Linked DNA regions of Homo sapiens. The main gene of each other region encodes a partner of the protein of the gene in region 2 in a complex. Each region holds a gene or a part of one and is shown on either strand. Other genes may lie near its edges. The genes, in order: EIF2S1, EIF2B2 and EIF2B3. A codon is read from its position in the direction of its gene.

Region 1 (10,867 bases), 7.6 Mb from region 2:
TACCAAGAACTAGCATTCAGAGAGCATTCCTAATACGTGTTAGATCCAAATTAGAATTATCACGAGAGTTGTCCCCATCACATAATATATTTTGGAAAGGAATGTGAACTTCTATATCCATTATAGCAGTTTGACCATGCACTGTTTTGAGAAAGAAGTCCTACCTACCATTTGTCATGCAAAATAACTGACTATGCAGGGTATTTGAAATTAGCCTGGAGTTTGGTTGATATATTTTGAAAGGTGGCTGATACTTTTTACATCAGAACACATAAGAGTATTATAGCATGTTGTGATATTGAGGTTCTGTGGGTTAAAGACATTCTGGATTTGATGTCGGATTACTTGAGTTTAGCTCCTACGCTAGTACTTATTAAGCATTTGTTCTTAAGGAAGTATTATAATTTAGTATTTCTGTTCCACCTTTCCTGTTCATTGCTTCACTGTGCCCTTTCATAGTACTTTGTATTGTAATTATTTGCTTGCTAGTTTGTTTCCCACTCTATACTTAATTACTTAGGTAAGAGTCTTTTTTTTTTTTCTTTTTTCTTTTTTCTTTTTTTTTTTGAGACAGAGTCTCTGTTGCCCAGGCTGGAGTGTAGTGGCACGATCTCAGCTCACTGTAGCCTCTGCCCCTGGGTTCAAGGGATTCTCCTGCCTCAGCCACTATAGTAGTGGGATTACAGGTGCCTGCCACCACACCCAGCTAATTTTGGTATTTTTAGTAGAAATGGGGTTTCACCATGTTGACCAGGCTGGCCTCGAACTCCTGGTTTCAAGTGATCCACCCGCCTCGGCCTCCCAAAGTGCTGGGATTACAGGTGTGAGCCACTGCGCCTGGCCTGGTAAGAGTCTTTCTTGTTGTATCATTAGTGCTTAGTACATAGTAGCTACTGAAAAAAAAATTAACAAATTATTATATTACAAAATGGAAATACCTTCTTTTTCTTTCAATATTTTATGTTTGACTAGCACATAATGGTTTTCAAAATGTTTTTACGTATACATGTGATACCCTCAGTAAACCTGTGATGTACATGGCACAGATGAGAAACTACAGTTCAAAGGATGTTATCTTTCCCAAGCAGCCACTTCTAGTAAGTAGCAGAGCAAGGACTGGAACACAAGGCTAGAGTTGTTCCCCGAGTTTACTATGTTAATTGCCTGATTTGACACTTCTTGAGGACCAAATAAAATAAGAATGCTGTGAAAAAGATAAAGAGGTGAAGTCACCTAGTGTGACTTCGATATTGCGGAATGATTTTTTTAAGTTAAAAAAAAAATTTAAGTTATTAGCATTTCATTAGGCAATATGTTCAAAAATTGTCAACCAATATGCAGGTTTTTGTGGTATGGATTCTTTTTGTACTTAACTACTATCTATCTTTACTATGAATAACATACCATCAACAGTATTCCTTTACTTACCCTTTATGTTGCAAAGAGACTTGTGCCTCCTGAAGAAATAGTATTCATAGTCATATCCCTTCAGGATTCTCTTACATGATTGCCCATGTTTTTTAACCATCAAATTAAGCCTTGCTTCCCCTAAAAGCATCACCTTTACTGTTTGGAGAAGCTTGGTAAGTAAATGTGGTTTTCACTGGTCAAATGTCTTGCAACTGTTCCATACATTTCTGTAACATAGTTTATTTTTATGCCCAATTTGAAACTTTTTAGCTCTCAAATTTGAGAGCTTTACATACACATATTCAACAACAGTTTCCCCACCCCCACCCTCGAAAAGCCCTGTTTAAAAACGAAACAAACAGTCAGCTGTTTCTTGGTGGGTAAGGCCATTGAATGTCTACTTCTCTTTATTTGCTAAATCCCTATTTTGTAGGGATTTTGTATTCCCTACAAAGAAATACATCTCTGCTACTGTCATTAATATGCTGCTCTTTGTTGTCAAACAGATGAGTACTAATAGTTTGCACTTATTGGTGTTATGTACTCTGGCACTGAATATATATTAATGTTGCTTTTTAAGTAAAATGTTTCTAATTATAATATATTTATGAATAGTTTTGAGAGAATATAGTCTTACTGATAAGAGGACAGACTCTGGATCCAGACTTCATGGATTCAAATCCTGACTCATCACCTGTTAGCAGTATGTGAAAGAACAAGTAACTTAACCTGTGCTTCAGTTTTTTAATCTATAAAATGGGGAGAACTAGGGAGAAAGTTGTACCACAAGGAGATAGGCAATGGCCAGATCATATAGGATTCTGTAGGTAGTGGAAAGATACATAAGTCAGTGGGAAGCCACTGAGAAGATATAGGCAGGTGCCAATTAATAAGTTATTATATGAATTTTCACAAGGTTTTCTTAGGCCTTTAAGTTCTGTTACTACCTACGTTTTGAGCAGTGACAACAGTGAAGGTTAACAGAAAAACATGAAAATCATCAGCCATGATTAGTTTGAGAGCTTCCTTTTTTAAATATGCTTCTACCCAGGCTATGATTTCAGGCTTGTGGATCATAAAAGGAGTAGTGCTGAAAGTAGGTTGGGTGGATCAAAGGGAATAATTGTAAATATCTTTAATGCTTGGAGGTTAAGAGAAACTTGAACTTTGTAGTAATGGAGATTAAAGCTATTCTCAAGATTAGGTATACCTATTCAATAAAAGAAAGGAATATTTGGGAGTATTGGGGATAAGAGAAGCTAGACATTGTGAATTCAAGGAAAAAGAATTATGAGAGGAGGATGCATTTTAGTTTATTTTGTGATTAAAATTTTTTTAGTTTTTGTTGTTTTGACATGTGACACTGTAATTTTGGCTATAATAAATGACAGAATGTATCATTTGGTATATTGGTTAGGGTTTAGGTAGAAAATTTTTTCCTTTATATAGTGAGTGGTAGCGTATACAATGTTTGCTCACTTCGGCAAAGAGTAGCTTTAGTTTTCTGATTAGTTATAATAGTGATGCTTCCCATCATTTGATATGCCTTAAAGTAGTATTTTACTCTTGAGGTATTCCTTTAATCCTTAGGTCTTGGAGTACTTTATAGATGGTCATTATTTTTTATGATTCCTCTGAAACTAAAGGCAGAGAATCACCCAAGCATTACAAAAATGTTGAGCAAAATAAAAATTAAAGCTTGGTTCCTGAACATTATCTGTTTTCTGGTACCACTTAAGAAGTTTCAAAGGATGAGAAGACTAAGACTAATAACTATTTTTTTCTTCATCTTTTCTTTCAGTGGCAGGATGTGGAAATTGATTTTTTTTTTATTTTCACCTTAACTGAATACTTACTTAATTCTTTTGTTTAAATTGCAGAATGCCGGGTCTAAGTTGTAGATTTTATCAACACAAATTTCCTGAGGTGGAAGATGTAGTGATGGTGAATGTCAGATCCATTGCTGAAATGGGGGCTTATGTCAGCTTGCTGGAATACAACAACATTGAAGGCATGATTCTTCTTAGTGAATTATCCAGAAGGCGTATCCGTTCTATCAACAAACTCATCCGAATTGGCAGGAATGAGTGTGTGGTTGTCATTAGGGTGGACAAAGAAAAAGGTAAGTGAGAAAAATATCTGTAATATAAATTTCAGATTTAAAATGGTTTATTTAAAAATACATTTTTTGTAAATTGCAAGCTGCAGCTTAAAAAAAAAAGCTCCTTTTATACTTAAACCTTTTACATACAAAGTTGTTAGAAAAGGATGCCAATTAGCTATCTAAGCAAGATCTCTTAATAGTAGTTTAATTAGTACATCCTAGGATTTTATGGATCAGATAACTTGAATTTTATTTCTAGTGTTTATCAGGATCTTGATAATTGACTCATGGTAACCAAACTTAGAGACAGGTAAGTCAGAGTACTAGTTCATTTACATTGGTAGGCCTGAATATGTTGGATGCCTTTTTCTTGATTTAAAGCTAAAATAGTAATGAGATCACTGGGTAAGCATGAAAATGGGGCAAATGGATTTTAGGGATCTTTTATATAAGCTTTGAAAAAGCAATATACTATGCGTGTATATACACACCTGAAATCCAACATTGTATATCTTGCTGGTAATTAGAATGTTTGCATCTACCAGATCTCGTGGTATCTTTCAGACAGTTTTGGATGAGCATTCATTTTTTACTTATTGGATGCCTTTTCTGGGCCCCATGTAAATCATCACCTTTGTGAATACTCTTTTTTTAAACATGGTGTACAATACCATTACGTAGGTTTTAGTTTCAGCCATCTTACTATAATTTGTTAGGTGTTAGTTTTAGGTCATTAGTTACCATCATGTCCGAAAGGCTTCATATCAGTCACCTTGATTCAACTTACCCTTCTGAATCTCCTCAGCCGTCTGGTTTACTGATACTTTCTCACTTCTGCAAGTGATTAATTTTATACATACTGACATTTTAATTTTTTTTATTATAGCCTTAGATGATACATAGATTTTGAGGATGTCTTATGCCTTAGGTAGTGACTGCTACTTAGCACATGGATTGTTTTAAATGTTTTGCTATGACTTAGCTATAGCCCCGCCCAAAATTATTAAACTACTTTGAGACTATTTGTTAAACTTAGGTAAGTCTTCACATCACTGTCCTAGTAGTACCTAAAGTAGTGTCTAATCTTGTACTTTTTTTTTTTTTTTTTAAGAATTGGGGTCTTGCTCTGTCACCCAGGCTGCAGTGTAGTGGTATGATCATAGGTCGCTGCAGCCTTGAACTCCTGTGTTCAAGTGTTCCTCAAGCAGTCCTCCCAAGTAGCTGGAACTACAGGCATGTGCCACCCTGCCCAGCTAACTTTCTTTGTAGAGATGGGGTCTTGCTGTGTTGCCCAGGCTAGTCTTGAACTGGGCTCAAGCGATTCTCCTGCCTTGGCCTCACAAAGTACTGGGATTACAGGTGTGAGCCACTGTGCTCAGCCTTCTTTTTCTATTGTATAAAATATACACAAAAGGAGGAATCAAATATGTTTTTAGTTGCAATCAGAAAAAATATGGAATGGCATACTTGCTTACGTACAGTAGATACATGTAAAGATATTTCCATAGCATTTGTTTGTATGGCATTAACTAAAACCAGGAAATGACCAAAATGGGGACTGGTTAAATAAATCAGTACAAATGCGTGCAATGCAATTTTATGCAGAATGAGATCTGAATATTTTGATATGGAAGATCTCCAGGATAGGATGAGAAAAAGCAAAGTGCAAAAGAGCCTGTAGAGAGGATTCATTTTGATACTAGAGAATTATGTCCTCCTAGACAAGCCTTTCAACGTAAATGCCATAAACCCTGAACAAGTATGAAAAATAACTACCTAAAGACAATGAGAAGCAGCCAAAAGCAGGCCAAAATTGAAAATTTGAAGGTGAGTCGACACTTATAAGAAAGGGTATGTTTTCTGTTTTACACCTTTTTTTTTGACCTAAGTACATGCTGAAGACAGCTTCAAGCCAGGCAGCTAAGGTTCTAGCAGAAAATTTATGGTCTTATTGGCTTTAGAACTGGAGGCGAGAGTTGTAGACAACCATAGTAGATGGAAACTGGTGGTGATAGTGGTGAGGGTTAGAGAAAGGAGGCGGCAGGCACAAAGGGAGATCCCCTAAGTCTATATAAATTCTTCCCAAATCTCTGGTTTGTCCCTGAACTACTGAAACACAGGGTGGACTCCAGGTAGCCTAATAGGGGAAAAATCTGAACAGATTTCAGTTGCTTACCATCTGGGGAGACAGAGCTTATAGTTTTGAGTTCAGATTCTGACTGCCTGCTAAAACAAAAAATCTATATTCTCTTTTTTTGGGGGATGGAGTCTCACTCTGTCGCCAGGCTGGAGTGCAGTGGCACGATCTTGGCTCACTGCAACCTCCGACTCCCTGGTTCAAGCAATTCTCCTGTCTCAGCCTCCAGAGTAGCTGGGATTACAGGCACACACCACCATGCCCAGCTAATTTTTGTATTTTTGGTAGAGACAGGGTTTCACCATGTTGGCCAGAATGGTCTTGATCTCCTGACCTTGTGATCCACCCGCCTTGGCCTCCCAAAGTGCTGGGATTACAGGCGTGAGCCACCACGCCCCACCCCATCCAGGTCACTTTGTGCTAAGTGTTCTACACTTGGTCAGCATTCTCATAAATACGGTGCATGGAATGGAACACGGTGGGCACGTTGCGTGAACTCACAAATTCAAGACCAGCTGGGGCAACATGGCAAAACCTCATCTCTACAAAAAATACAAAAATTAGCTGGGCGTGGTGGTGCACCCTGTAGTCCCAGCTTCTCGGGCGGCTGAGGTAGGGGGATGGTTTGAGCCCAGGAGGCGGAGGCTGCAGTGAGCCAAGATTGCACCGCTGCACTCCAACCTGGGTGATAGAACCAGACCTTGTCTCAAAAAAAAAAAAGAGAGAGGTGAAGGAAGTTCTTTAAGCTGAAGAGATGTGATGACCTGACATGGAAAATATATAGGTAAATGTAAAAGACTATTTTTGCCCTTCTTAGTTTCTTTAAAAATATATTTAACTATTTGTCTCATTTGTGCCTGTGGGATTGTAATCTATAGAGGTGACTGAGTGATGACACAGTCCAATGCCCTTGAAAGAAAACTTTTACTACTTATATTGCCTGAGAGAAGGGGGCTTGATGTGCCATGCAGGGCCACATGGGGAAGCACCAGTTTTAGTCAGGAGTCACAAGGAACTAGGGGAAAAAGTAGGTCAGAGCTTTTGTTGGAGTTTCTGCAGGAAAAGCAAGGCAGAGCAGCGTAAACGGCTTGCAGTTGGCTAGTTTGAATGCTTTTGGCGGGCCTTGGGGCATAAAGACTGCCCTGCTTGTCTAATACCTGGCCCTTGACTTACAGCAGGGAGAATTTTGGCTTGGTGTATGAGTTTATGGGCTCCAGATTGGCTGCTCTGCATAAGAAAGGCATGCTACCAAGCAAGCCCTTTGCTGACTCCTCCCCACCTGACGGAGGGGCAGTCTCTCCACAAATGTCAGAGCCTCAAGAATACAGAAAATAAGAAAATATTTAGTTACTACTAATAATATTAATAATAAAATATATAGTTAATACAGTTGGCTCTGTGATTAATGGATGCCAAGTAGTTAAATATAGAAGCTAAGAAAACAGAATACTGTTTAAAGCAGGCTTAGTACACTTGACAACTTAATCACAAAGGCCAGGAGGTGTGGGGTAAATAGATCTATATGATTCTTAACGATTCTTACATTTTATGTGCAGTAGTAAAATTAAAAGGTTAAGGATGTATATTGTAAATTCTAGAACAACCATTAAATAAGCCAGTTGCAGTGGTCTGTGCTTGTAGTCACAGCTGTTCGGGAGGCTGAGGTGGGAGAGTCACTTGAGGTCAGTAGTTCAAGACCAGCCTGGGCAACATAGTGAAACTATCTCTAGAAATAAGTAAGTAAAATACAAAATACACTATTGTAAAAGCCAAAGATATATTAAAATGGAATTCTAGAAAACATTAACCTAAAAGAAAACTCAAAAGAAAAAAACAAAAACCAGAAAGAACAAATAGAAAACAAATACCTAAAATGTAGGTATTCAATTATTCAGTTATTGATACAACTGAATTCATTTATATCAGTAATTAAATGTAAATCAAGTAAATATTCCAGCTAAAAGGCAGAGATTGTTAGGATGAATTAAAAAGCAAGACTCGACGATAATCCTGTCTACAAGAGATATACTTGGTTGAAAATAAATGGATATAAAAAGATATGCTATGCAGACAATACCTTAAGGAGACAGTGTCTATTAATATTAGATAAAGTAGATTTAAAGACATAGTATTTTCAGATTTAAACAGGGACATTTTGTAATGATAAAGGGTCAATTTGTTAGAAGGAAAACAACAGTCATCACTGTGTATGTGCCTAATAATAGAGTTCAAAATATAAAGCAGAAATTGAATTCAAGAGAGAAATAGACAAATCTATAATCATAGTTGGAAGTTTGAACAAGCTCTGAACAATTGGAGAAACAATTAGATCAATGAAGACCTTGACTTGTTTGATACCTAGAACACTGCACCCAGAAAAGGCAAAATACACATTATTTTCAAGTGTGCATGACATTCACCAAGATAGACAATAAGGTGAGCTATAATATTAATACAACTCTAAATAAATTTCTAAGGGTTGGAATACAAATATGTTCTCTGATCACACTGGAAGTAATTTTGAAATCAGTGTCATATCTTGGGAGGGAAGAGTTTGCAGTATTAAATAAGCCCTTCCAAATAATTCATATATTAAAGCCTTAAGGGAAAATTTATAGCTTTAATTACTTATATTAGAAAAGAATAAAGATCTAAAACAGTTATCTAGGCTTTTGTTTTAGAAGATAAAAGAAAGGAAAGGTAAACTCAAAGTTGCTGAGACCAGCTCTGTTGGGGAGACCCTAACCCAGAGGCGCTAGAGGAATTAAAGACACACACACACAAATATAGGGGTGTGAAGTGGGAAATCAGGGGTCTCACAGCCTTCAGAGCTGAGAGCCCCGAACAGAGATTTACCCACATATTTATTAACAGCAAACCAGTCATTAGCATTGTTTCTATAGATACTAAATTAACTAAAAGTATCCCTTATGGGAAATGAAGGGATGGGCCGAATTAATTGCAGCAGGAACACGTCCTTAAGACACAGATCACTCATGCTTTTGTTTGTGGCTTAAGAATGCCTTTAAGCAGTTTTCTGCCCTGGGCGGGCCAGGTGTTCCTTGCCCTCATTCCTGTAAACCCACAACCTTCCAGCTTGGGCGTTAGGACCATTATGGACATGTCGCAGTGCTGCAGAGATTTTGTTTATGGCCAGTCTTGGGGCCAGTTTATGGCTAGATTTTAGGGGGCTTTCTCCCAACACAAAGTAAGTAGAAGAAAAGAAATAATAAGGATAAGATAATCGGTGAAAATAGAGTACCAGAAAATCAGAGAACAGTATCAAAGTTAAAAACTTGTTTTTTGTTTTTTTAAAAAAGAGCAAAATTGATAAACCCCTAGTTAGGCTGATGAAGAAAAGGAAATAACACAAATTACCAATCTGGAATGAGAATGGGGCTATCACTGCAGATGCTACAGACATTAAAAGGCTAATAAGGGAATATCATTACCAATTTTATGCCAATCATCTCAACAAATCAGGTGAAATTAGTGAATTCCTTGCAAAATTTTACTTACTGAAACTGACCAATATAAAATAGAAATTTTGAGTGTCCTATATGTTAGAGAAATTGAATTTATTGTAAAAAATCTTTTCATCAAGAAAATTCGGTCCTGACCAGCACAGTGGTTCATGTCTGTAATTCCAGCACTTTGGGAGGTTGAGGTGGGCAGATTGCTTGAGCCCAGGAGTTCAAGACCAGCCTGGAAACATGACGAAACCTCATCTCTACAGAAAGTAGAAAAATTACCCAGGCATGGTGTTGTGCACCTCTAGTCAGTTCCAGCTACTAGAGAAGCTGAGGTTGGAGGATTGCTTGAGGCCAGGAGAACAAGTCTGCAGTAAGCCGAGGTCATGCCACTACACTCCAGCCTGGGTGACTAAGACCCTGTCTCAAAAAAAAGGAAAACTCTAGGCCAGATGGTTAAATTGATGAGTTGTATCAGACATTTAAGGCAGAAATAAGATGAGTCATAATAAAATTTCAGAAAGTTAAGGAGGTAGGCCAGGCACGGTGGCTCACACTTATAATTCCAGCAATTTCGGATGCTGAGACAGGAGGATCGCTTGAGGTCAGGATTTCAAGACCAGCCTGGCAATATAGGGAGACCCCATCTCTATAAAAATTTTAAAAAATTAGCTGGGTGTGGTGGTGTGTACCTGTAAAGTAGTTCCAGCTACTTGGGAGGCTGAGGTGGGAGGACGGCTTGAGCCCAGGAGTTTGAGGCTGTAGTGAGCTGTGATCACACTGCTGTATTACAGCCTGAGCAACAGAGCAAGACTGTCTCCCACCAAAAAAAAAAAAGTTAAGGAGGCGGGAACACTTTCGAAATACAGTCATGTGGTGCTTAATGACAAAGATACATTCTGAAAAATGTCTTATCATGCAAATTTCATAGAGTGTGCTGCTTACATAGACCTTATAGCCTATACACACATAGGTTGTTTAGTATACTCTATTATTCCTAGGCTACAAACCTGTACAGCATGTTACTATACTGATTAGGTAGTTGTAACACAATGGTAAATATTTGTGTACCTAAACACAGAAAAGATACAGTAAAAATACAGTATTATAATCTTAACAGCACTGCTGCTATATATGCAATCTATTGTTTACTGAAATGTTATGCAGTGCATGACTAATTTTATGAGGCCATCATAACCCTGATAAGAAAACCCAACAAAGACATGTTTTTGTAAAAAAGCAAATTACTGACCAAATATGTGATTAGCATAGATAAAACAATTAATATGTTTTTCAAATCCAACAATGTATAAAAAGGATAATAAAGCATGACCAAGTGGAGTGTATGGAATGCCAGTTTGGTTTAACAGTCATAACTTTATGTTGGCTGGGCATGGTGGCTGAGGCCTGTAATCTCAGCACTTTGGGAGGCCTAGGTGGGGGGATCACTTGAGCCCAGGAGTTCGAGACCAGCCTGGGCAACATAGCAGGACCTCACCTCTTTTGTTATCTCTCACTTCTTTTTATTTAAAAAAAAAATTAAAAAATTTATGTGTGCTTTTATATGATCAGTTAATTAACAAAAGTACAAAGGCAGCTGATCAAAGAAAAAATTATCTTTTTAACAAATGGTGCTGGGACAACTGGATGTCCATATGCAAAAAAGAACCTCAATTCAAACACCTCACCTTATACAAAAGTTAGCTTAAAATGAATCATAGATGTAAACTTCTAAGTACCTCTAGA
Region 2 (8,885 bases):
AACACTTCCAAATCACATTTCAAAATTGTTCTTTCATGTCAACTAGGTGCATGTCTGCTAAGGGAGTTTTTGCAAGGACAGGTGGATAGTGTGAGGCCTTTACAATAATCACATCACCATCTGGTACTATCTGTATGGCAGAGCAGTTCTGATGTAGTTGTAGTATTATAGATCATTACAGAGTATGCCAGTCATTCCATGATGGAACTGTGACTGGCAGCCTTCATTAGCCCAAAGACTGATGCAACAGATTGCTTTGAGAAATAGTTTTGAAGCACATCCATGAAACATATGATCCTATGGGTTCCAGCATTGATTTCTTTGAGGTATCATTTTACACTTCAGTTTTTCCTGGTAGAGTATTTTTCAGAGATGTCTCTTCTGAGGCTAAATTAGGAATTTCTGTTCCTTATTCAAGTTCCAAGAATTGTGCCTTTCCTGCCCTCTGCCCAAACTGGAAGATAGAAACCGTGGGAAAAAAGTGTCTTTACAAACTGCACTGTTATCTAACTTGGTTTATTTAGCATATTGAGGAAGACTTTCACATCCATGGAATCCTAGTTCTATTAATTCTCTCCAAGCTACAACAGTTGTTTTTTTGTTTGTTTTTTTCCGAGTTTCTCGGTTCCGCCAGCAAGGCAGGGGTGGGAGGTGGGCACCCCTGATACCAAGGCTGACAGGTAGTGAGTTGATGTGGAACTTCTGTTTCCTCCTGTTCAGTTCAGGTTCTCTCTTTCTGATACTTACCCCTCCTCAAATAGGGAAACGGAGAGAGGGGAAATAAGAAGATGAGCCTTAATAGGGTTTACTTAATTGGGGTCATAAAGATTCTAAAAAGTATGCATTCCTGCAGTTCTGTTCTAGGCACTGTAAGAGCTGACCAGAAAGAGAGCTTCTACCCTTATAACCTTCATCCAACTCAGTCATGCCTGGGAAGGATGTTGGTGCTAATTTTAGACACAGAGACTAAGATGGACAAAGGACAAGTATCATAAAGCATTTTTGGAGCCAGGAACAGATTTAAGTTCCTTGCCTCACTGCTGCTCTTACTCCAAACCACACAATTGTACCCAAGTGAATTGCTGTTAGAATTGGTGCCTTTGGAGGAGACAATTGCTCGTAATTGGTAGCTACAAGCCACTTCACTGAGAAAGCGTGGGGTCTTAGATGCTTTAAGAAATAATAGAAAGACTGAGCCTGAGTGAGTCAGGCTCTTCTGAGTCATACAGCTTTTAGGTCAGTGTAAAATGCCGACTTTCTGAGGTCTTACTTTTTTCCCCTCTCTGGAAGACCTAAGGCAAAGATCGCTCTCAAAGAGATATCAAAGAATAGAGACCTTTCCCTCAGAACCTACCTCTGCCCAGTGTTAACCAAAATGTGGTTTCAAATCACCTGTTCAAAGCCCACAGGCTATTTGTTAAACATGCAGATTCTTAGTGCTCCCTCCACCCACACAGACACTGCACAAGAGGCCCTGCTTTGGACCACTAGTTCCTAAACATGGCAGAAAATCTGGATCACCTGGGAGACTTTTTAGGTTAAAAACCGGAAACAATATGTAAGCATAAACATGTCAACAAAATTAGAGGATGTCCCTCTGCTTGCTGTGCTTGGTATTATACTTCTATACTGTTTCCCTATGCGTGTACATATAATTTTGTTTTGTTTTTGTGAGACAGAGTCTCACCCACTGTTGCCCAGGCTAAAGTGCAGTGGCCCAATGGCACTGCTCACTGCAACCTCTACTTCCCAAGTTCAGCCTCCCGAGTAGCTGGGACTACAGGTACCCACAACCACACCTGGCTAATTTTTGTATTTTTAGTGGAACTAAAAATTTTATTATAGTATTTTAGTTTCGCCATTTTGACCAGGCTGGTCTCAAACTCCTGACCTCAAGTGATCTGCCCTCCTCAGCCTCCCAAAGTGCTGGGATTATAGGCGTGAGCCATTGCGCCCAGCCAGTGTTGTTTTATGGAAATGAGTCCGTATTATGCATATTGCTCTGCAGCTTGTTGTGTTTTTTTTCCCCAGCTTGTTTTTAACTAACAGAGTATCAAATGGACTTCCTTGCAAATCTGTCCCATTCTTTTAACACCAGGATCACAACTCAAATGCCTACAGGGGTTAGGCAGATAACATAAATGAGTTAAATGGATCCAGTAGGAACTGCAGAAAACTGGAGATGTTCCATCCAATGGCATCAGATGTTACCCAACCACAAACTAACTACTGCCATTTGGAAATGTTGGCCCAGAGTTGCCAAATTTGAGTTTTCAAGAAAAGCAAGAAATCTGAATTTTTGAAATGTGCAATCTCCAGATTTTTAAATATTGGTAACAAATTCACATTAAATGCAGTGAACCAGCCCAAATGCCTTCAATCCAGACACTGCCCCTCCAGCCATCCTTTTGAAACTTCTATTGCCATGTATAATGTTCCACGGTGTAACTGTCAATACTTAACCTTTCTCCTATTGCTGGACACTTAGGCTATGACATTACAACTACTACACTGAACACTCTGTATAAATCTTTTTGCTTGTACAAATAATTCTAGAAATACAGCTTCCAAATTGCCCTCTAAAAGGCTGTACCAATTTATAGTCCTATAAACACTACATGAGACTATCCTTTTCTGGGAAGCTTTAAACAGATTCCCAGGTAGTAACCCTGAGATCAGATGCAGTAGGACTGAGATGAAACCCAAGACTGTGTGAGTGAGTGATCGGAATCACTCTCAGGTGATTCTGATGATCAGCGAGGTTTTGGAACTACTGTTTTAGACTATGAACAAACTTTGGGGCCAGGAGCAGTGAATTGTAAAGGAAACTATACTTTCATTTGTACTTGTTATTTTTTTAGAGACAGAGTCTTGCTCTATCATCCAGGCAGGAGTGCAGTGGTACAATGATAGCTCACTGAAGCCTTGAACTCATGGGCTCAAGTGATCCTCCCACCTCAGCCTCCAGCATAGCGAGGCCACAGGCATGTGCCACCATGTCTGGCTAATTTTTTAAAATATTTTTTTGTAGAGACAGGATCTTGCTATGTTGCCAGGCTAATCTCAAACTCCAGGCCTCAAACAAGCCTCAAACAAGCCTCCCACCTCAGCCTCCCAAAGTCCAGGATTACAAGTGGGAGCCACTGCATCTGGCCAGTACTACCATGTTGTACACTTTTCCCGCTAACTACAGCCCTCTATGCAAACACAAAAAAGGCTCTGCTGCTGCTGTTTCAAGCAGTTCTGTCAGAGTAGGACAATAAATAAACCAACTATGGAACCTTCAAGTGGCTTTTATTGGTAGAGCCTAGAAAAAGTGTCATAGCCATTTCTGAGCAAAAATCTGTATCCCAGTAAGGTATTCAGTGTTATGTTTAACACACTACTGAACCAGAAAGTTTAAGTTCCTGACACAGACGCAACCAGGTCACTAAGAGGCTCCAAAATCAACAAGTTAAGCCCTGCTGCTCTGTTAAGATCTGAAAGGCAAGACACAGTCCTGGATGTGTGCCCTTGTTACGGGGTGACTAAAAAGGCAGGCAACAGTATCAAGGATTTTTTTTTTAGGTGGACTCCTGTGCACTCCCACATTGCAAGGATGTGCTTCAGCAGCAACACTCAAGTCTCCTCTTCATTCTGTATCTGCCTAAGCAATCTGCTTAGGACACGTGTGGTCGGTCATAAAACATGATCATCAGGATGGTAGAGTTCACTCATCAGGCGGTAGATGTAGGAAGGTGCATTCCCACCAATGTTGGAGATAAAGAGGGTAATGAGCTCTGGGGGAACGTAGTCAAACACAGGGCAATGCACGCTGACCTTCTCCAGAATGTCCCCTGAAAGGCAAGCACACATGCTAAAGGTAAAACTGAGGCTCCCTCTCTCATAATTAAGTAGCATATAGATTCCAGGCTCGAGAATGCAGGCATATTAGCTCCCCAAGGACGGGAAGCTATGGAAAAATGCAAACCAGAAGAGATGACTTCAGATCATGACAATCCCTGCTTACAACTCTCCCATGCCTCTGCACAGCCCTCAGAATAAAATTCAAACTCAGGATTGAAGTTTAAGATCTGGGCCCTCCCTGACACACCACATGAATTACAATTTGGACCACTCTCCCCCTTGCTCATTACTGTCTAGCCATGTATGGCCATCCTTTTCTAACTGGCTAAGCCCCTGCACCAGCTCATAGAAAACTATGATCTTCATATGGTGGACTCTGTTCATTCAGGACTCAGCTGAAATGTCATCTCATTAAGACCCTTCCTCAATCTCAGGCCCCTAGCCACTTTCTACCACATCAGCCTTGCTTGTCCTCAGGCATCCCATGACCTGATACTTTCTCATCTGTCTTCCACAATAGAATGTGTGGGAACAGGGCCTTATCTTTTTCATTCATTGTTTTATCTTCAGTGCCTAGAAGAGTGCTGGATACATTGTAGGTGCTCAATAACTATTTCTTGAAGATTGAATGTTTATTTAAATAAAGGGATGAAGTCAATCAACTTCCAAGAGGAACTAGGACCCCAACCAACTACTATGCGTTGCTCTCAGATGGTGTGTAAGGCCACCCTTGCTGATGAGGCTGCACGCGTAATGAGCTGAGCTGCTGCCTTCAGAAGAAGCCAGAGAAAAGAACCCCAAGACATGAGACTATCCAGGCTACAGGTGAGTTTTCTAAGGAGGAACATTTCACAACCTGCTTCCTTTGGGAGTCAATTCACCAAAATGACTCCTTATAGCAGGAAAACAGGTACATTTTCCCAACTGGTTGTTGTCTATATCTCAAACAGCATGCAAAGCCAAACCCAGACAATGCTAAATGATCCAACCCACAATAGCCCCAACAAATCTAAAATATATTTGTCTCAGAACAAATTAACATGGACTTGGTCAGGTCCTCAAGCACTTTGAGCTTCTAAAGAAAACAGTCCCCACAAGAAGTATGATAAAAAACACAACTTGACAGCATTCAGTTCTACTGACCAACAAAACAACAAAAAGACCAAAACACATGCACACACAAACCCCGAATACACACAACACATGCACGCATGCACACACAGCTTCTGTACCTTCTGTGAATGGCAGGACTTCTTCAGGAGCCACAAACTTATGAAATGAGTCTTCTTCATTGGGGAACTAAAAAGGAAAAAATTTATAAAAACTAGAGACCCAGCAATTCCACTCCTAGGTATGTACCCTAGAGATGAAAACATATGTCCACACAGAAAACTTATACACAGATGCTTATAGCAGCATTATTCACAAAAGCCAAAAGCTGGAACCAACCCAAATGCCCATAAACAGATGAATGGATTAATAAATTGTGGTATGTTCATATAATGGAATATTATTCAGCCTCGAAAGGAAATTCTGACATTACAACATGGATGAACTTTGAAAACATCATGCTAAGTGAAAAAAGTCAGGCACAACATGTCACATATTATATGATTCCTTTTATACAAAATGGGCAAATCCATAGAGACAGGAGCAGATTGGAGGAGATGGGGAGAAGGACAAATAGGGAGAGATTACTTAATGGGTACAGGGTGTTTTTCTACAGTGGAGAAAAAGTTTTGAAACTAGAGAGTGGTGGTTGTACAATGCTGTGAATGTACTAGATATCACTAAATTGTATACTTTAAAATGGTTAATTGTATGTTATGTGAATTTCACCTCAATTTAAAAAATAGAGACCTATAAATAGGTTGATGTTTTCAAAGCAAATAGCTTCTATCACTGATGAAATGGCTCTTCACTTAGTCCTTGCTTGTATTCAGGTTACAAAGGACAGGCCCTGCAACAATAACAAAACTGATTCTATGATCCTACTTTCAACCTGCTTGGCATTTTCAGAAATGGTCAGGCGACAGGGAGTGGTGGCAATCGTAAGCAAAGGACCTTTCCCAACTACATATTGTCCTTACAATCTTGACTTCCTAAAGTTGACAGCTGAGAACTCTCAACTGTTTTACTGAATCAAGACTTCTGTGGTTCTTTCCAGCCTCCACTGGGTGTAATCCATTGAGTAAATGCAGATAAATGGAGGCCCTGGAGTGAGGTGGTTGAAGTCCCAGAGTTCAAGCCTACCCTTTGGCTTCCTTCTTTTCTGCTGGCTTCTAGCTAGAGACAGACACACTTACCTGTGGAGAAAGTTTGAACATAGGTGCACAGACGATGAGTGGGGTGGAATGGTGTTTTGCTGCCAGTGCCAGAGTGTGAGTTCCTGTCACAGCTCTCAGGGCCCCATTGGCCAGGATGGTCTTCGTGCCAATGATCACCTTTGGGACAAGACAAAAAATGTGAGCCATCCTGGGGGTGGAGCCCTAAAAGGGCCACTGGCCACAAAAAGCTAAATGCTTAGACCTCAGAATTGGTATCGTGAGGGGTCACAGACTGGTAGAGGTGAAGGGATCCCTGGCTCAATACAAGTTCTAGCTTAAAAGTAGGTTTCCAAGGAAAGAATGAATGTAAAATGGGACAAGAAACTGCAAAACCTACTGCTCTCAGTCCCATATTTTCTGGAAATTGAGATGCCATACCTTCTGAGAAGCCAGGAATCTTTTTCATTCACTATCCACAACTGCCAAGCTCTTTGAGCATAAGGCAGGAGCCCTGTAGCCAATCCCTAGAAACTGACACTCTTGCCTTAGTTCTATTTAATACTTCATTCTTTTCAATGCTTCAACCAAATTTAGAGGCTACTCCAAGAGAGGAACAATGATGCAGAAAAAAGGGAAAAGAAATTCAGTTAACAGATTAAAAAGGCCTAAGTATGTACTTTGAAAGGTGCTAGAAACTTTATTCTCTCACCGTGGATATTACAGGAGGAGATAAAAATCAATATTTTAGAAACATAATCTTCATGAATTCAACATAACTCCAGATATACCCACCTTGTTGACTCTTGACATAACGGCAAAAATGGCAGCATCAGTCATGACAGTTGTCTCAATACCTGCTTTGGACAAATTCACAGCCATTTCATGACCCTGCAATGGGAGGGAAAGGCTGATTCTAAGAGAAAGAGTGAGAAATAGTGAAAAGTGCTCTCAAATGTAACTGGATCTGGGGAATTGTGTGATATGGGCATATCCAGCACATAATTTCCAATAGATAACTCATTTTTCGGACAACTGATTTTTCAGACTCTCATAGCTCTGGTAAGCTGTAGGGAAGCCCAGGGGAAGCTAATAAATGTCTAATGCTCCACAGCAGCACCAGAGCAGCCATAAAACTGGAAATACAACATGCATGTATAATATAATCACGATTGCTGACAAGATAGCTCCTGGCTCATTATTTTAAAACAACCTGCATCCTTACATATTTCCTTTTTGAGACCTATTATTTACTTAGGATCAAGTGAGGTCAGACCAAGCATTAGTCATCCCCAAGGTAATTTACCCTGCTTTGATTCCTAAAAGAATCAAGTTATCTTTCCTTGAACCCAGCAGCTCGCCATCTTTTTTTTTTTTTTTGAGACAGAGTCTTGCTCTGTCGTCCAGGCTGGAGTGCAGTGGCGCTATCTTGGCTCATTGCAACCTCTGCCTTCCAGGTTCAAGCAATTCTCCTGCCTCACCCTCCAGAGTAGCTGGGATTACAGGCATGTGCCACCACGCCCAGCTAATTTTTGTATTTTTAGTGGAGACGGGGTTTTGTCATGTTGGCCAGGCTGCTCTCGAACTCCTGACCTCAGGTAATCCACCCGCCCAGCCTCCCAAAGTGCTGGGATTACAGGCATGAGCCATCGCTCCCGGCCCCAACTTTCTTAAACCACTATTTATGAATGTTCACAGGACGAACACCTTGAAAATTCACTTAATGTTTTACTTGATCTTCTCAGTGTCTCAAAGTCTTGCTTATCAATTCAAGGTTGGAATGGCCCTACCCATCTCTCGTTTATTTCTTCTTCATTTTTCATTTTTCTTAGTAGCAACTCCAGCAGTCTCCTTACCTGGCAGAAAGGAGCACACTCTGCTACAATGACATGGAATTTCCTCTTTCGGGCAGCCTCTTTGAGGAAGGCCTCTACTGTTCGGGAGAAGCCAATGGTCATGATCACCTCATTGGAGTGAATGTGCTCCAGAGCCTGGGCTGCAATGTTCTCCATTGTCCCTTCTGTAAGAACGGTTTTGCAAAAAAAAAAAAAAAAAAAAAAAAAAAAATATATATATATATATATATATATGAAATTGCTATATCACAAACACACATTACGCGTATACGGAAAAAGATGTCTGCCCTTCACATGCACTGCCCACCTAGCAGACCCTGGTACCACAGGGTTAATGTGCTTAAAGTGAAATGTCACAATTTCTTTTTTTTTAATAGAGACAGGGTCCCACTATGTTGCCCAGGCTGGTTTTGAACTCCTGGTCTCAAGCAATCCACTCACCTTGGCCTCCCAAAGTTGTGGGATTACAGGTGTGAGCCACCATGCCCAGCTATGTCACAATTTCTTAAAAGCCCCACTCCTCTGGGATTTTCTGCCTGCCCTCTTCCAGAAGTACCCCTACCTATGAACCACCTCTGTCACTACAGAGCTCCTTACAACTGATTTTGAAGACAGTAGATTCAGCCAAGGAATGGCAATCTGGGAAATCCTAAAGTGCTGAGAATAGGGTAAAGAGAGCTTCGGCCTAAAAGAAGTCTTCCTCCAAAAGGTGGCCACAACACTTCTACATGAGAGAGACTGGCCAGAGAAGAAAAAATGGGGGAGCAATTTGGAAGCAGCTTCTTCATCCTCTGATTACAATGAATATCTGCAAGTCACTTGGACCGCAATGACAAGGGGGATAGAAATGGTATACGTGTACGTGTGTATAAAAATTCAGATAGTGAAGGAGGTCTATCGACCTTGGCTCTCTAGGGAG
Region 3 (11,659 bases), on a different chromosome or scaffold from region 2:
TGAGATTGGACCACTGCACTCCAACCTGTGTGACAGAGTGAGATCCTGTCTCAAAAAAAAAAAAAAAAAAAGAGAGAAAAAAGAAAATATTAAAAGATGCCTGACTAGAATTAACAGCAGAAACACAAGCATGTTAGGCTTCTGAAAAGTATGAAATGACTTAAGACTCCTCCAATAATTCAGCCATCGGCTCATCTTATTCCTCCAATTTTTAAAGATATCACTATAAACACAAACGTAGGCTTGTATCTGAACCTAGATTTACAGAACACAATTATAAAAACAAACCAAACTGTTAATTCCTTTTTTCAAACTCAAGGTAATAAACAAACCTATTTGACTTTGAAAAGAATCTCTTTACAGAAACTACCACAGAACAGAGGCACAGTAGAAGGTCATAAATCTTTATTTATGTATTTATTTTTGGAGATGGAATTTCACTCTTGTTGCCAGGCTGGAGTGCAATGCCGTGATCTCGGCTCACTGCAACCTCCACCTCCCAAGTTCAAGCGATTCTCCTGCCTCAGCCTCCCGAGTAGCTGGGATCACAGGCATGGGCCACCATGCCTGGCTAATTTTGTATTTTTAGTAGAGATGGGGTTTCACCATGTTGGCCAGGCTGGTCCCAAACTCCTGACCTCAGGTGATCCACCGGAGTCGGCCTCCCAAAGTGCTGGGATTACAGGTGTGAGCCACGTGCCCATCCTATTTATTTATTGTTTATTTAGAGACAGAGTCTTGCTCCATTGCCCAGTCTGGAAGTGCAGTGGTAAGATCATGGCTCACTGCAGCCTCAACCTCCTGCACTAAAGCAATCCTCCTGCCCCAACCTCTGGAGCAGCTGGGACTACAGGTGGGTACCACCATGCCTGGCTTTTTTTTTTTTTTTGAGACGGAGTTTCTCTCTTGTTGCCCAGGCTGAAGTGCAGTGGCACGATCTCAGCTCACCACAACCTCTGCCTCCCAGGTTCAAGTGATTCTCCTGCCTCAGCCTCCCAAAGAGCTGGGATTATAGGCATGCACCACCACGCCCAGCTGCCCAGCTAATTTTGTATTTTTAGTAGAGACAGGGTTTCTCCACATTGGTCAGGCTGGTCTCGAACTCCCAACCTCAGGTGATCTGCCCACCTTGGCCTCCCAAAGTGCTGGGATTACAGGTATGAGCCACTGCACCTGGCCGCCTGGCTAATTCTTTTAATTAATTTTTTATAGAGATGGGGTTTCACTATGCTGCCCAGGCTGGTCTCAAACTCCTGGCCTCAGGCCTCCTGCCTGGGCCTCCCAAAGTGCTGAGATTAGAGGCATGAGCCACTGCACCTGACCGATCTTTACTGATTTAAACTGAAAGTACTTTCTCTTACAATGATGTAATTTTAAGAACAAATGTGTTAAAATGTAACGTTCAGAAGAAACAATCTATTCAACATCAAATTGCCAAATAATGTTGCAACTTTACTATAATTATTATTACTCCTGGGCCCAGCACATCAACATCTAAAGTGCAGCACTTAACACCTACTATACCCAAGGCACAAAGTGAAGGCTCCTGCATAACATTCACAATGTAAAGATATGGTCATGTAGATTCTAGCAAGCATTGCCTCAAAGTGTAATTTAATTTCATTTTGGTATTATATAACATCCACCACATCAAATGTTATTATGAAAAGAGCACTGGACCCTTAAGAGTCAAAAGATGAGCTGGACGTGGTGGCTCACGCCTGTAATCCCAGCACTTTGGGAGGCCCAGGCGGGCGGATCACCTGAGGTCAGGAGTTCAAGAGCAGCCTGGCCAACTTGGTGAAACTCTGTCTCTACTAAAAAAAAATTTTTTTTTTTGAAACAGAGTTCTTGTTCCCCAGGTTGAGTGCAATGGCATGATCTTGGCTCACTGCAACCTCTGCCTCCCAGGTTCAAGCGATTCTCCTGCCTCAGCCTCCCAAGTTGCTGGGATTACAGGCATCCGCCACCATACTTGGCTAATTCTTTGGATTTTTAGTAGAGACAGGGTTTCACCATGTTGGCCAGGCTGGTCTTGAACTCCTAACCTTAGGTGATCCACCTGCCTTGGCCTCCTAAAGTGCTGGGATTTCAGGCATGAGCCACTGCGCCCGGCCTCTACCAAAAACATTTTTAAAAGTAGCCAGGCATGGTGTCAGGCACCCGTAATCCCAGCTACTCAGGTGGCTGAGGCAGGAGAATCACAGGAACCCGGGAGGCAGCAGCTGCAGTGAGCTGAGAGCACACCACTCGCACTTCAGCCTGGGCGACAGAGTGAGACTCCGTCTCAAAAAAAATAAAATAAAATAAAAAAGAGCCAAAAGAGCGCCAGGCACAGTGGCTCATGCTCCCAGCACTTTGGGAGGCCAAGATGAGAGGATCACTTGAGCCTAGGAATTCTAGAACAGCCTGGGCAACATGGTGAGACCCCATCTCTATAAAAAATTAGCCAGGTATGGTGGCGCATGCCTGTAGTCCCAGATACTCGGGAGGCTGAGGTGGGAGAATCACCTGAGCCTGGGAGGTTAAGGCTGCACACCACTGCACTCCAGCCTGGGCAACAGAGTGAGACCCTGTCCCAAAAAAAAAAAGTCAAAAGATGAGTTTGAGTCATGATTCTGACACTCATAGGTGTGATCAGGGGCCTGACATTTAAAACTCTCAGTGTCCTCAGCTTCTAGAAGGAAGCCTGGTGGTTAGGTTCACAGACCATAGAGCTAGAATGCCTAGGTTTGAATTCTAGCTCTACTATTTATTATTAGCTGTGTGAACTAGGGCAAACTACGTAAATTTTCTATGCCTCAATTTTTGCATTTTATGATGGGGATAATTATAGTTTCACTTCACAGAGTTGTTGTTAAGATTAAATTTGTTATTCTACGTAAAGCAGACAAAATAATGTCCATCTTTTTTTTTTTTTTTTTTTTGAGACGGAGTCTCGCTCTGTCGCCCAGGCCGGACTGCGGACTGCAGTGGCGCAATCTCGGCTCACTGCAAGCTCCGCTTCCCGGGTTCACGCCATTCTCCTGCCTCAGCCTCCCGAGTAGCTGGGACTACAGGCACCCGCCACCGCGCCCGGCTAATTTTTTGTATTTTTAGTAGAGACGGGGTTTCACCTTGTTAGCCAGGATGGTCTCGATCTCCTGACCTCATGATCCACCCGCCTCGGCCTCCCAAAGTGCTGGGATTACAGGCGTGAGCCACCGCGCCCGGCCAATAATGTCCATCTTATGAGAAGCACTATATTTGTATTTGCTTTACTAGACAGAGACTAGATTATGGAAAACCTTCGTACTAATTGAGCCATGCTGCTTCATAATTCTGGTCTCTGCACTGCTACTGTTGCTTCCTAGTCTGCCTTTCTCTTGTGTCTAGTAATCACCTATTAAACTTTGAAGACAGCTCAAGAATCCTCTTGCCTACAAAGCCATTCCTAACCGTTCCCACCCCTCCAGAAGTGACTCCTTTTCCCGAAGTGCTTCCATTCTGCCATGTGCAGATTCTCTTAGCCTTTACGGGTTTCATTGCACGTATGTGTTTAAATGTCTACTTAAGTGTAACATTAATGTCTCTTAAATGTCTACATAAGAGTGTAAGAGTGACTTTCTTGGACTGTGTGTGCATCATCACTGTATTCCCAGTCAGATGCCAGAAATCAAAGTGGAATGAGGACCTGTGAACTTCACAACTGTATAAGAGTCAAACTCAAACATGTGCATAAGGGCATTAGAACCCAGGTCACTAGGAACTGAGGTTCCAGCTCTCAAGGAGGCCCTGGGTGAAGAAAGGCAACCTAGGAAGCATGAATAGTAATCATGAACATAACTAATCATGCTACCAGGCAGACTGTCAAATGCTCATGTCACTGCCACGACTATGGCTGACGGGAATCATGGCAACGAGTCTCGCTGCCTCCCAAGCTTTGGAGAGGGTGTTCACCGCATCTCAGACTTGCCTGCATCATAGCACTCATGCCTTTTCCAGTTGTAAATAGATAAGAAAACTGTATCAGAATTGGTCTGTCATTCCACGTGTGCTGCCTGAAGGCAGAGACCTCACTGCTCCTCCCTATATTTCACTGCCCTGCATCCAAACAACTAAAGGCAGGCTGAACAAATGAATGAAGGGCTGAGGCTGAAAGAGTGCAGGCACAGTGCTAAAGGCGTCTGGTACCGGTCTGGTGCTCGCTCACTCGCTGTGACTTTAAGCAGAACCCTCCCCGAAACTTCGTTTCTTTCTTTTCTTTTCTTTTTTTTTTTTTTTTTGAAACGGAGAGTCTCACTATGTTGCCCAGGCTGGAGTGCAGTGGCGCGAATTAGGCTCACTGCAACCTCCACCTCCTGGGTTCAAACGATTCTCCTGCCTCAGACTCTCGAGTAGCTGAGATTAGAAACTTAGTTCCTCCATCTGTTGCATAAGGTGGTTGGCTCGGATTCTCATCCCCAACCTCCCTTCTACTTCGGACACAGCTACACCGGGTCGAGCAGGGAGTCGAGCTGACAACTTCGGGGCTCAGCACCCTCTCCTACCCCTTCGGGTCCACCTCGGCCCAGTTCGACATGCCCGCCTCCCTCAGATGAGTGGCCCCACCGCACTGCTCACCCGGGTCAGCCAGCTTGTGTGCGGCCTGGCAGGGCAGAAGTCACAGCTATAACTCAGCTCCCGGCACGCCGCAACCGCTCCCAGCGATCTCCACGCCGCCTCTGACTGACAGCCCAATGGCGCAGGCGCGCGATGGCCGAGAAACTCGATGGAACGCGCAGAGCAGACCCATGGAGAAGAGAAGACCGCCGAGCGATGGATGACGGAGGGGAAGCACACTCAGCGGAGAGGAGGGAAGGCGGGCCGGAGGGGGCGGGGCCACCGAGGAGCATTCGACACGTGTGTCCCTCTGTCCATTAACACATTACCAACGCCTTTTGAGTATTCCTCCCAGTGCAGGGTGCCGGGAACCCAGACGGAACAACTCAGCCTCTTTCCTCAGGGAGTAAGTCTAAGACCTGGCTTCGAGTACATTCGGTGAAAGAAAGCTCATTGGGAGCCGCAATTTTGGCTAGCTAGTGAAAAAAATCACCGAATGCCCCTGCAGGGGTTGCCAGGACTTCCTATTTGTTTTTGTTGTTGTTGTTGTTGTTGTTTGTTTTTTGTTTTTTTTGAGACGGAGTCTCGCTCTGCGTCGCCCAGGCTGGAGTGCAGTGGCGCGATCTCGGCTCACTGCAAGCTCGGCCTCCCGGGTTCACGCCATTTTCCTCCCTCAGCCTCCCGAGGAGCTGGGACTACAGGCGCCTGCCACCATGCCCGGCTAATTTTTTTGTATTTTTAGTAGAGACGGGGGTTTCACTGTGTTAGCCAGGATGGTCTCGATCTCCTGACCTCGTGATCCGCCCGCCTCGGCCTCCCAAAGTGCTGGGATTACAGGCGTGAGCCACCGCGCCCGGCCCGGGACTTCCTATTTGTAACAGGGCCACTCACGTTAACTTTAGCCATCAAAACTGGGGGCGGCTGGGCATGGTGGCTCATGCCTGTAATCTCCGCAATTTGGGAAGCCGAGGTGGGAGGATTGCTTGAAACCGGGCGTTCAAGACCAGCCTGTGCGAGAGAGCCTCCAGTCTCTACAAAAGTAAAAATTAGCTGGGCATGGTAGTGTGTGCCTGTAGTCCCAGCTGCTCAGGAGGCTGAAACGGGAGGATCGCTTGAGCCCAGGAGTTCGAGGCTGCAGTGAGCTATGATCGGGCCACTGCACTCCTCCTGCCTAGACGACAGAGTGAGACCCTGTTTTTTTTTTTTAATTTAGTTTTTATTTCATAATCATAAACTTAACTCAGCAATCCAGTTAGGCATGGAAAGGAACAAGGAAAACATGGAACCCAAAGGGAACTGCAGCAAGAGCACAAAGATAAGATACTGCGAGCAGGCCGGGCGTGGTGGCTCACGTCTGTAATCCTAGCACTTTGGGAGGCCGAGGCAGGCAGATTGCCTGAGCTCAGGAGTTCAAGATCAGCCTGGGCAACATGGTGAAACCCCGTCTCTACTAAAATACAAAAAAAAAAAAAAAAAGAAAGAAAGAAAGAAAGAAAAAATTAGCCAGGCATGGCGGCGTGCGCCTGTAGTCCCAGCTACTCGGGAGGCTGAGGAAAGAGAATTGCTTGAACCCGGGAAGTGGAGGTTGCAGTGAGCCGAGATCGTGCCACTGCACTTCAGCCTGGGAGAGGGCGACAGGGTGAGACAGCGTCTCAAAAAAAAAAAAAAAAAAAAATACTGCAAGCAAATGGGGTGAAGGGGTGCTCTTCTGAGCTACAAAAGGAATGGTCTGGTGGTTAAGATAAAACAAAAGCCAAACTTGTTAGAGTTGTCCACAGTCAGCAATGGTGATCTTCTTGCTGGTCTTGCCATTCTCGGACCCAAAGTGCCCCATGGCCTCCACAATATTCATGCCTTCTTTCACCTTGCCAAAGACCACAGGATTGCCATCCAGCCACTCAGTCTTGGCAGTGCAGATGAAACACTGGGAACCATTTGTGTTGGGTCCAGCATTTGCCATGGACAAGATGCCAGGATGTGTATGCTTTAGGACGAAGCTCTCGTCATCAAATTTCTCCCCGCAGGTGTACTTGCCACCAGTGCCATTATGGCATGTGAAGTCACCACCCTGACACATAAACCCTGGAATAATTCTGTGAAAGCAGGAACCTTTATAACCAAATCCTTTCTCTACATTGCTCAGAGCACGAAAGTTTTCTGCTGCCTTTGGAACCTTGTCTGCAAACGGCTCGAAGGACACGCGGCCCAAGGGCTTGCCGTCGACAGCGATGTCGAACACGGTGGGGTTAACCATGGCTGATCGTACAGAGCTCCTGGCGTCGGTGGCTGCATTTGCAAAGCCGAGACCCTGCTTTTAACAAAACAATAATAGGCCAGGTGCGGTGGCTCACGCTTGTAATCCCAGAAGTTTAGGAAGTGAGGCGGATGGATCCCTTGGGCCCAGGAGTTCGAGACTAGCCTGGGCAACGTAGTGAAACACCCTCTCTACTAAAAATACAAAAATTAGTCAGGTGTGGTGCCGCGCTGTGGGGTTCCAGCTACTTGGAAGGCTGAGGCAGGAGGATCGCTGGAGCCCAAGAGGCAGAGGTGGCAGTGAGCCAATATGGTATCACTGCACTTCAGCCTGGGTAACAAAGAGACAGGATCTCTAAGTAAATAAAATAAATATTAAAAAATGACGAATAGATAATAAAATAATTGTTGTTCTAAGCTCTACGGTTTGGAGTGGTTTATCAAGTTGCACTAGATAACAGGACCAATGGCCATTCTCTTTTTCCCATGCATTCCTGCAATTTCCTAATCTTTTGAAAGCTTCCTTTTTTTTCGATTAATTAATTTTTTTTTTTTTTTGAGACAGTCTCACTCTGTCACCAGGCTGGAGTTCAGTGGCACAATCTTGGCTCACTGCAACCTCTGCCTCCTGGGTTCAAGTGATTCCTGCGTCAGCCTCCCGAGTAGCTGGGACTACAGGCATGCGCCACCACGCCTGGCTAATTTTTGTATTTTTAGTAGACAAGGGGTTTCATCAGATAGGCCAGGATGGTCTTGAACTCCTGACCTCGTGATCTGTTCGCCTCGACCTCCCAAAGTGCTGGGACACAGCCGTGAGCCACCGTGCCCAGCCTGATTCATCTCTTAAATCTTGAGTTGCTTTAGCTTCCTGCCAGTTAAAAGGTAGAGCATGATTTCTGTAATAAAAATAAAGGAGCTTGACTTCATTCAACAATATTTATTCATTTATTTTTAGAAATGAGGTCAGCTTATGCTGCCCAGGCTGGACTCAAACTCCTGGGCTCAACGATCGTCTTGCCTCAGCTTCCCAAGTAGCTAGGACTACAGGTATGTGCCATGGAGGACTGGCTTCAACAATATCTTGAGTGCCTAATATGTGCCAAGCAGTGTCTTAGATGCTTGGTGTTGCAGATACAGCAGTTAATGATTAGGACTTGTCATTTTTTCCAGAAGGAGGTCTGCTTAGACCCTGAAAAAAAAAGGGGGGGACTCATATCCTAAAACCAGCCTATCTTTGCCTTGCCATGAACTGACTGATCTGGCCACAGGAGGCCTGAAGTCTGACTACCCCTCTATAGAAACACAGAGATATTCTCTCTTTGGTATTACCTCAACCAAGACTTGGAAATTACAGCATGGGTTTGAGGTAAGAACTAATTATAAGTAAGAAGAGCAGTCAGCCCCATATCTGCCATCCATTTCAAATCCTTATGTTTAAACTAGCAAATGTTTTTCAACGAACTAGAGGGTTTTCTCTTCTATTGTGGAAAGTAGTTGAGAGATTGCTTCAGTTTAAACTCACTTTAAATTATTCCCTGAGGGCAACAATTCTCAAACTTTTTCATCTCTAGACTCTTCATACTTAAAAATTACTGAGGACCCCAGAAAGCTTTTGTTTATATGGATTATATTTATCAATATTTACCATATCGAAAAAAAATTATTTTTTTGACACGGAGTTTTGCTCTTGTTGCCCAGGCTGGAGTGCAATGGCACGATCTCAGCTCACTGCAACCTCTGCCTCCCGGGTTCAAGCGATTCTCCTGCCTCAGCCTCCCAAGTAGCTGGAATTTACAGGCATGCGCCACCACACCCAGCTGATTTTGTATTTATAGTAGAGACGGGGTTTCTCCATGTTGGTCAGGCTAGTCTCAAACTCCTGACCTCAGGTGATCCGCCCGCCTTGACCTCCCAAAGTGCTGGGATTACAGGCATGAGCCATTGTGCCTGGCCAACTACATTTTCAAAACAAAAAGTTTAGTGAGATGAATGCCATTGTTTCACCTTTTTGAATAGTCTCTTTAGGGTCTGGCTTAATAGAAAACAGCTTGATTTTTCCATTATTGTAATATATTATTTTGGTTTAATTATATCATAAAAATGTGACTTCACATAGATACATAGTTGGTAAGAGATAGAGCTTTTAATAGCCTTTTCAGATAATTATAGGTATTCTTTGACACTATACCAAAATTCAATAAGTGGTAGTTTGTTAAAGGTTTGTTGCAATGTAGAATCGGAAATTATATCAATGAACATTTTGTACCTTGTTACAGTACTTGCACTTTGAATGGACATTTTACCCATGCATGACCTTGCAACTTGGTATACAAATAATATGTAAAATATTCGTTCACAGAGTTATGCAGATCTTCCTAACATTGACTCATTATACAATATTTTAAAATCACATTTGTTAATATCACTAACAATTTCATCAGAAAAATTCTTAAATATTAGAAAGCTGGGAAGCTGATGATGACAGATACAAGTTTTATAAAATTCTAATTTTTGGCCGGGCACAGTGGCTCACGCCTGTAATCCAAGCATTCTGGGAGGCCGAGGTGGGCAGATCATGAGGTCAGGAGATTGAGACCATCCTGGCTAACACGGTGAAACCCTGTCTCTACTAAAAATACAAAAAAATTACCCCGGCATGGTGGCAGGTGCCTGTAGTCCCAGCTACTCAGGAGGCTGAGGCAGGAGAATGGCGTGAACCCGGGAGGCAGAGCTTGCAGTGAGCTGAGATGGCGCCACTGCACTCCAGCCTGGGCTACAGAGTGAGACTCCGTCTCAGAAAAACAAAAACAAAAACAAAAAACCCCCAAAATTTTAATTTTCTCTTCAAAGCTCATTGGCAGCAAATACTATTAGTGGTTTCCCTTGAAGTAACTGGCTCACTTTGTTTATACATCGGCAGGCATAGTTGGTCAGTTCTTTTTTTTTTTTAAATGAAAAACCATAATATGCCCTTCATTTGCTTTTAGCTATTTCATAAACATCACAGATAAACTGGACACAGTTTGCAATGCAACTTAGAAAAATTTCTTTTTCCATAACATAAACATGTCAATCTTTCCCTTTAGTGCCTTCTTCCACTCCTCCTCCACTGTGCTGAAGAGATATTGAGTTCTTCCAGATTTTTGCTTAGCTGGGTGGTTTCCAAACTCAATGGACTCTCTAGGTAGGTAATTCCTGCACAGGGCTTTCCTGTCACTGGATTTATGATTTTTCCAACTTTGAAAACAATCTCGGCCAGTTCATGTTTCACATGCTTTGTTCGCGGAACAGGTAAAGCTCTGAGAAGCACAGTATCACCAACTGTGCACTGCTGAAGGGCATCGTGAGCAAAGTAGGTTTTCCGCTTATTGTAATACTTTAATAAATAGGGATCCAGAACAAGCCTGGTCACTCTCACTTTAGCAGTCTTTTGCATTTTTGTCCCAATCACCTTCCCCACGATCCACTTGGCATGGGTGGATGAATGAACTACGGACATTATGTGGCTTTGGTCACCTCCGCCACGACTGTGCAGCCACCTCCAGTTGTTCTTTCGATTCAATATAGTGCTCCATGAAAAAGCAGTAGTTCAACTCGCAGCTCAAACTATCACAAAACTGTTTCTCTTGGAGACAACCATCATACTTCTTTTGTATGCACAGAAGGGTTAAATGTGTACTTCCCATCTCATCATACAGAATATTAAAAAGACACATACTCAGTAAACTAGTATATTTGGTAGCAAAAAAAAAAAAAATGGGCTGGGCACAGTAGCTCACGCCTGTAATCCCAGCACTTTGGGAGGCCGAGGCAGGTGGATCACGAGGTCAGGAGTTCAAGACCAGCCTGGCCAACATAGTGAAACCCTGTCTCTACTAAAAATACAAAAATTAGCCGGGCACAGTGGCGTGTGCCTGTATTCCCAGCTACTTGGGAGGCTGAGGCAGGAGAATCACTTGAACCTGGGAGGTGGAGGTTTCAGTGAGCCAAGATCATGCCACTGCACTCCAGCTTGGGCAACAGAATGAGACTTCATCTCAAAAAAAAAAAAAAAAAAAAAAAAGACATGTACTCAGGCCAAGGTTTAATAAAATTAATATAGTTTACTGCTTAATCAAAGACCTTCTTAAGTGTAACTGACTTTGTTTAATTTTTTTTCTTTCTTTTTTTTTTTTTTTTGAGATGGAGTCTCACTCTGTCGCCCAGGCTGGATGGAGTGCAGTGGCGCGATCTTGGCTCACTGCAGGCTCTGCCTCCCAGGTTCACGCCATTCTCCCACCTCAGCCTCCCAAGTAGCTGGGACTACAGGTGCCCACCACCACACCCGGCTAATTTTGTTTTTGTATTTTTAGTAGAGATGGGGTTTCACCATGTTAGCCAGGATGGTCTTGATCTCCTGACCTCGTGATCCGCTCGCCTCAGCCTCCCAAATGCTAGGATTACAGGTGTGAGCCACTGTGCCCGGCCTGTTTTTGTTTTTGAGATAGAGTCTCACTCTGTCACCCAGGCTGGAGTACAGTGGCATGATCTCAGCTCACTACACCCTCCACCTCCCGGGTTCAGGCAATCCTCCTGCCTCAGCCTCCCAAGTAGCTGGGATTACAGGTGTGCGCCACCTGGCTAATTTTTGTATTTTTAGTGGAGACGGGGCTTCACCACGTTGGCCAGGCTGGTGTCAAACTCCTGACCTCAAGTGATCCATTCGTCTCTGCCTCCCATAGTGCTGGGATTACAGGCGTGAGCCACTGCGCCTGGCCAATTTTTTTTTTTCTTTAAGACAGGGTCTTGCTCTGTTGACCAGGCTGGAGTGCAGTGGCATGATCTT

What was found.
Region 1: the proteins of EIF2B2 (region 2) and EIF2S1 are in contact, whole or in part, in a cryo-EM structure (PDB 6K71), measured with the Homo sapiens proteins. Residues at the interface, in NP_055054.1 of Homo sapiens: Glu92, Arg95, Gln128, Ser131, Asn132, Glu135, Ala136, Glu139, Val142, Glu143, Glu145, Glu149, Asn150; in NP_004085.1 of Homo sapiens: Leu51 (codon at 3,442), Ser52 (codon at 3,445), Arg53 (codon at 3,448), Arg54 (codon at 3,451), Ile56 (codon at 3,457), Asn60 (codon at 3,469), Lys61 (codon at 3,472), Leu62 (codon at 3,475), Arg64 (codon at 3,481), Arg67 (codon at 3,490), Lys87, Ser91.
Region 3: EIF2B2 (region 2) and EIF2B3 share a complex: the UniProt entries of both Homo sapiens proteins name them as parts of the translation initiation factor 2B (eIF2B) complex.

What each region holds. Positions count from the first base shown.
Region 1 is NC_000014.9:67,361,477-67,372,343, forward strand, and holds part of EIF2S1 (eukaryotic translation initiation factor 2 subunit 1), read left to right. Parts: intron 1-3,290; 5' UTR 3,291-3,291; coding exon 3,292-3,532; intron 3,533-10,867. UniProt on the Homo sapiens protein: Member of the eIF2 complex that functions in the early steps of protein synthesis by forming a ternary complex with GTP and initiator tRNA. This complex binds to a 40S ribosomal subunit, followed by mRNA binding to form a 43S pre-initiation complex (43S PIC).
Region 2 is NC_000014.9:75,003,982-75,012,866, reverse strand, and holds the end of EIF2B2 (translation initiation factor eIF2B subunit beta), read right to left. Parts: intron 8,131-8,885; coding exon 7,967-8,130; intron 7,002-7,966; coding exon 6,906-7,001; intron 6,291-6,905; coding exon 6,153-6,290; intron 5,146-6,152; coding exon 5,079-5,145; intron 3,837-5,078; coding exon 3,679-3,836; 3' UTR 501-3,678; downstream 1-500. UniProt on the Homo sapiens protein: Acts as a component of the translation initiation factor 2B (eIF2B) complex, which catalyzes the exchange of GDP for GTP on eukaryotic initiation factor 2 (eIF2) gamma subunit.
Region 3 is NC_000001.11:44,981,891-44,993,549, forward strand, and holds the start of EIF2B3 (translation initiation factor eIF2B subunit gamma), read right to left. Parts: upstream 4,706-11,659; 5' UTR 4,603-4,705; intron 1-4,602. UniProt on the Homo sapiens protein: Acts as a component of the translation initiation factor 2B (eIF2B) complex, which catalyzes the exchange of GDP for GTP on the eukaryotic initiation factor 2 (eIF2) complex gamma subunit.